Linked DNA regions of Homo sapiens: region 1 is linked to region 2. The links come from fine-mapping of genetic effects on gene expression. A gene starts in region 2. The other region holds a variant in brackets. All regions are shown on one strand. Distances are from middle to middle.

Evidence for each region. PIP is the estimated chance that this variant, and not a neighbour inherited with it, causes the effect. A credible set is the group of variants that fine-mapping cannot tell apart.
Region 1: its variant is the best candidate, but not a certain one, in a credible set for the expression of TFAP2A in tibial nerve (GTEx, PIP 0.83).

Annotation. Positions count from the first base shown.
Region 1 is chr6:10,349,010-10,351,910 of GRCh38, forward strand. It overlaps LOC105374921 (a long non-coding RNA gene), which reads right to left. Exons shown (of 3, transcript XR_926459.3): 1 at 2,846-2,901; 2 at 413-526. Among named protein-coding and RNA genes, the nearest start is that of TFAP2A-AS2, 54 kb to the right of the region's middle. The variant C/T (reference allele first, on the strand shown) is at 1,495.
Region 2 is chr6:10,413,366-10,416,266 of GRCh38, forward strand. TFAP2A (transcription factor AP-2 alpha) reads right to left here and starts at 1,709. Exons shown (of 7, transcript NM_001372066.1): 1 at 1,576-1,709. The coding sequence starts at 1,626. TFAP2A-AS1 (TFAP2A antisense RNA 1) reads left to right here. Exons shown (of 3, transcript NR_033910.1): 2 at 1,316-1,686; 3 at 1,922-2,804. RefSeq lists enhancers at 933-1,590, 1,591-2,250.

The sequences.
Region 1 (2,901 bases), 64 kb before region 2:
GTGAAACCCCGTCTCTACTAAAAATACAAAAAATTAGCCGGGCGTGGTGGCGGGCGCCTGTAGTCCCAGCTACTCCGGAGGCTGAGGCAGGAGAATGGCGTGAACCCGGGAGGCGGAGCTTGCAGTGAGCCGAGATCGCGCCACTGCACTCCAGCCTGGGAGACAGAGCGAGACTCCGTCTCAAAAAAAAAAAAAAAAAAAAGTAGGGACATTGAGTGGTTCTCCCAGTGGTCTCTATGGCCTCTGTACATAGGGAGGTGATATAACCTGTTAGGAGTGAGGCCAAGAGTGGAGTGAGGGTATTGGAGAGCTTTTGGAACAGCAGCCCCGGAATAGGTAAAAGAGAAGCCGACTGAAAAGTGGAGATCGGGGAGTTATCAGCCCTGGGGAGAGAACAGCATTTCTTGAGTACCTGTTCTGTGCAGGCAGGATTGTGGCTGATCTGCAAGACGATGGTGACAGTGACGACAATGACTGATGGTGGCCTTGCCTATTTGCCATCTCACTGCCTCTTCCTCCTTTGCCACTGCAAACAAGAAGGTTGGTTGCAGCTGTGACTTGCACTGTGTAGGAGGATAGAGCTGATTCTTTCCCACCTTCCTGCTGTCACATCACGTCTCTGCTTCTCCCTCCTCTGCCCAGCTGCCCTGCTCAGTTCCCATGAATCTGGGGGGATGTGTTACGAGGAAAAAAGACAGAAAACACCCCACCACTTATCGCAGGGAAGATGGGAATTCAGAACCTTTTTGTTTGTTCATTTGTTGTTGTTGAGACGGAGTTTCACTCTTGTCGCCCAGGCTGGAGTGTAATGGCACAATCTCGGCTCCCCGCAACCTCTGCTTCCCGGGTTCAAGTGATTCTCCTGTCTCAGCCTCCCAAGTAGCTGGGATTACAGGGGCCTGCCACCACACCTGGCCAGTTTTTGTATTTTTAGTAGAAACAGGCCACCATGCTGGCCAGGCTGGTCGCAAGCTCCTGACCTCAGGTGATCCACCCTCCTCGGCCTCCCAAAGTGTTGGGATTACAGGCGTGAGCCACCGTGCCCAGCTCCCGTTTGTTTTAAACAGTTAATAATAGTGATTCTTTATCAATCTCAGACTCTGGGCCAGGTATCGTTCTACACACTCTGTGTATTAACTCACTTATTTCTTTTTTTCTTCTTTCTCCTTTTTTTTTTTTTTTTTTGGAGACAAGGTCTCATTCTGTCACCCAGGCTGGAATGCAGTGGCACGATCTCAGTTTACTGCAACCTCCACCTCCCAGACTCAAGCATCCTCTCACCTCAGCCTCCTGAGTAGCTGGGATTATAGGTGCACGCCACCACAGCAGCCTAATTTTTTGTACTGTTAGTAGAGATGGGGTTTCACTATGTTGCCCAGGCTGGTCTTGAACTCTTGAGCTCAAGTCATCCAACCACCTCAGCCTCCCAAAGTGCAGGGATTACAGGCGTGAGCCACAGTGCCTAGCCTAATCCACTTATTTTTTACACCAGCT[C/T]CATGAGATGAGGCAGCATAGCTCTCATGAAATAGATTCTGCTGTCATTGAGCCTATTTTACAGATGAAAAAACGAAGGCACAGACTTTCGCCTAAGGCTACACAGCATAGGCTATAAGTAGCAGAGTTGAAATCTAGACTGATTGGCCTCAGCCACTGCTTTTGATCAACACACCATACTGCCCTCCTATAAGAAAGCTGAACTTGGGGAAACCCTCAGCCGTGCTTTTAGAAAAGACTTTAGACATAATCTATTCCAGCCTCCTATATCAAGCAGAATTCCTTCTGCAGTTTGGACAACTCAGGACTTGACAGGCAGCCTGTTTCACTGCTGCCCAGCCCTAACTGGAACAAAACCTGCCAAAAACCTGTTCCTCGTCCTCCCTTCTTTGAGAAGCCCAGACAAAATGTAGCTATCAAGGTGGTGAGCCTCACCACTCTCCTGGAATATGCAAGTCATTATCCACCCTTGCACAAGCAAAAGAAGGGCCAGTTCCTTCTCTTGCTTGGAGCTAAATGGGGATTAAAAAGAAAAAAAAAAAGAGAGAAAACAAGATGACCCCAGACTGAGGCACTTTACATGTGGCCTCATAGGGTACTAGGAAAGGGTGACTCTGTGGCTCTTAGGTGTGCTACACATCCCTGAAGCCACAGAGCATCTGCCTCCCTTAAACCACCCAGAAGGAGCACACTGCTAGGCTCGACCCTTGGGCATTCTAATGTCCAATCAGAAAATGTGTCATTAGGCTGGGCACAGTGGCTCACGCCTGTAATCCCAGGCCGAGGCGGGAGGATTGCTTGAGGCTAGGAGTTCGAGACCAGCCTACGCAACATAGGGAGCCCCCTCTCTACAAAAAATTTAAAAATTAGCCAGTTGTGATGGTGCATGCCTATAGTCCCAACTACTTGGGAGGCTGAGGTGGGAGGATGGCTTGAGCCCGGGAGTTCAAGGTTGCACTGAGCCATGATTGCATCGCTGGACTCCAGCCTGGACAACAGAATGAGATCCTGTCTCAAAAAAAAAAGGAAATAAAGAAAAAGAGAAAGTGGTGCCATTCAACATTTGTTTAGGCTCCTCAACTGACACAAAAATGGACTTTACACTCTAAAGCCTATCTCTCGAGGCAATAATTCACAATTTGCTTCTGAAAGTACAGGGTGAGTCTGGAAATGGCTTCCTCACCGCCTATTAATTAAGCGTAGATCTCTAATCTCTGGTTTTCCTCTGGGCCAGCAGATTGACTCACCGTGCCCTTCCAAGCTCGGCCTTTTGTCAAGTACTTCTAGGCCCCTGTGGGAGCTCAGTGGGTCTGTCCCCATTTCGCTCTATCACCATATGGGCTGCACTCACCTGAGGAGCGAGAGGGCACGTGGCCAGTCAGATGGGGGCAGAGTGTCTCAGGAGTG
Region 2 (2,901 bases):
CCCCATCCAGTCGGCACCTAGAGCCGCACGGAGGTTCGGACCCCGCCCGCCGAGGGCGCCCACACCTGGAGCTGGGTTTCGGCCTCTGCGAAAGTGAAATGCCCAAGCCTCCGGCCAAAGCCCAGACCAGTACAGTATGAATTGTCCTATGAGACTGAGGGGTTCGGCTTCATTCCTACCTGCCCGCAAAGCTCGCCCCCAGCCTCGAAAACAAAGCGACTGGTCTGACGTGGGGTCCCTGCGCCCCTCCTCTAGCGCGACAGGACCCCCCCAGGGAAGAGCCAGTACCCGTGGGATGTCACCCCGTCCCCATCTACCGGGGTGGGGGGCCTGAAAGGAGAACGATTTAAAATAATCTTCAGAAAGAAAAGGGAGGAGGGAGCGGGTGACACATCGTTCACATAAACCCAATTTCTGGTTTCGAGTGAAGTCAAGATCTCCGCCCCTGCGCCTGCACACACACCTCCTGCCTAACATTCTCAGCTGCAAATGCCAAAAAAGAAAAAAAAAAAAAACAGCAAAAGTTGGGACTGCCACCTATTTATTTAGGTAATCTCCAGCCCTACACACCCCAACCCCTCTCTCGGACTCATTGCTCATTACAGTGTTGGTTGTAACCGTTCCCAGCGCCTCCTGCGGGTGGACAGGTCGCGCTAGGGTCTCCCTTGCTGCCTCAAGAAGGCGAGCTCAGGGGACTCTGCGTTTTAAAATGGGTTCCAAAGCGGCGCGCTCTGTCGGCCCAGCGGGCTTGCGGCACCAGAGGTGGTCTGCAGCCGCGCAAGGATTCCCACGGTCGTTCTGGGCTGGTGCAGAAGCTGGTGCTCCCGCACCCAGCGGCCAGCAGGCTCGGCGCAGCACATCTCCCCACCCCACCCCCACACACCCCCGTGGGGTGCGTCGATCCTGTAGCTCAGAGGGAGAAGCTACTTAGAACTTCGTGAAGCACAGAGGATCTGGAGCGAGCCCCGCAGCTGGGATCAGTGGTCTTAAGTTGAACCCGCTTACAGGAAGATGCAGCCCAGCTCACAGCGAAGTGTGGGGGGGCCGTCTCTAAAGCCGAGAAGGGAACCGCTTTAGAAGTGGGGGTGGGGGGAAGAAAGAATGAATGAATGAATGAATGAATGAATAGAAAGAAGAAGGAATATTAAAGATCGGAGAGGAAGTTCAAGAGAGAAAAGAGTTTTCTCTTTCCTTTCTGTTCCTGGTGACTTGGGCCCTCAATCTCGATGAAGATAACACGAGGAGTGCACAGGCAAGTGCCCAGTTGCCAGCAATTGCTTCAAAAGCCCATGTTCTTCTTTTCCCCCATTCTTAGGCACAGCCAAAATTGGTCAGAAAGGGGAGTAAAGTGGGACACGAGCTTCAAAGTAGGGAAACCAAAGAAGGGAGCATCCACGTCCTCTCTCTGCAGCTTCTCCCCCGCGTTCTTCGGGCGAATCCGAGGGACGGGCGCTGCGCTGGGGAAAGTTTGTCCCACCCGCGTTTCGCAGCTGGTTGCAAGGAGAGGAGGAGGAGAGGGAGGGTCAAGCTCGGAGCCTGTGACCGCACGGATGATCGAGCCGGCGTCGCGCTTACCTCGCAGTCCTCGTACTTGATATTATCCGTCAATTTCCAAAGCATTTTCATGGATCGGCGTGAACGGATATGCCCCTCTCGGTCTCGCACCCAAGTGGAGCTACTCTCTGGGTGAGCGCAAAGTGCTGGCTGCCGGCGGTGAGCGCAGGAGGAGGAGGAGGAGGGAGAGGAGGTGGAGGAGGAGAAGGAGGAGGGAGAGGAGGAGGGCAAGGAGGAGGAGGAGGAAGAGGAGGGCGAGGAGGAGGAGGAGGGCGAGGAGAAGGGCGAGGAGGAGGAGAGAAGGGAAAGAGCTCCCGTGTGCGCTCGGAGATCTCCCTCTAATGGTAGAAACTTTTCCCTTTTCCAGCTCTTTACCAACAGCCTAATCGCCTCATTAGCATATCAACAATAGTCCAATTGCTCGCCAGTACCACAATCTGCCGCCGGCCGCTCCGACACAGGTATAAAGGCCTCTCTACGCCGCGAACTTGCTTCTAGAGCGCACTCCAGCCTGCGAACTGATAAAACCTTCCTCGAGCTCCGCCGCGAGGCCCTGCCCCAACACCCCCTCTCTTACCCCAATTCCGCCACATTCCCCTTCCTTTCTTTCTCCGCTTCCTTTTCTCCAGAGATGCCTTCTGCAAAGCCCGGCACTGCTCAAGGTCCAAGCGCCACGCCTGGGGCCCAGCTTCTAGCACTTCTCCCTTAACCCTGCTACCACGATCCGAGCTGCCCTTTTGGCCCCGTGCAATTTTATTAGAAATCATTATCCCTTTCGCAATTAAACATAACCACCAAACCAAGACCGGCGAAGTCACTCCAGGATTTTTTCCCAACAAGGGATCGCCTCCGCTCGAGGCAGCCACCCCCTCGGGCCGCAGCGCCTTGGGAGTTTTATTGGCTTTGAGCTTTCCCCCAGGTTGGAGATTCTGCCAAGCGGCTCCGGTGGCTCTGCTGGGGTTTGCAATCCCTTAATTGCAGCGTGTAAAATAAAAGTTGTACCCTGAAGAGGTTACTTGACAGCTCCAGGGGTTAAACAATTTTTCTCCTGTTTGTGTGAAGCTAGGGCCAACTGACAGTTCAAATTGGTGTTCAGGCTAAGGTTTCCTGGGTGCAACGTGGACACGAATACAGAACTCCTATGGAACTGCACACCCGCTTCTGAAGTTGAGCCTAAAAACAGACGTGTGTGTGCCTGCAAGTCTAGATACCGTCTCGTGCGTGCATCAAAATAAATCACCGGGAACCGACTTTTAGCTGTGTTAATCTGCTCTAGTTTTCCCAAGATTCCCCTTTTTAATTAAAGCAGGGAGAGTTCCTTCATGATTTGGTGATGCTACTAACGCG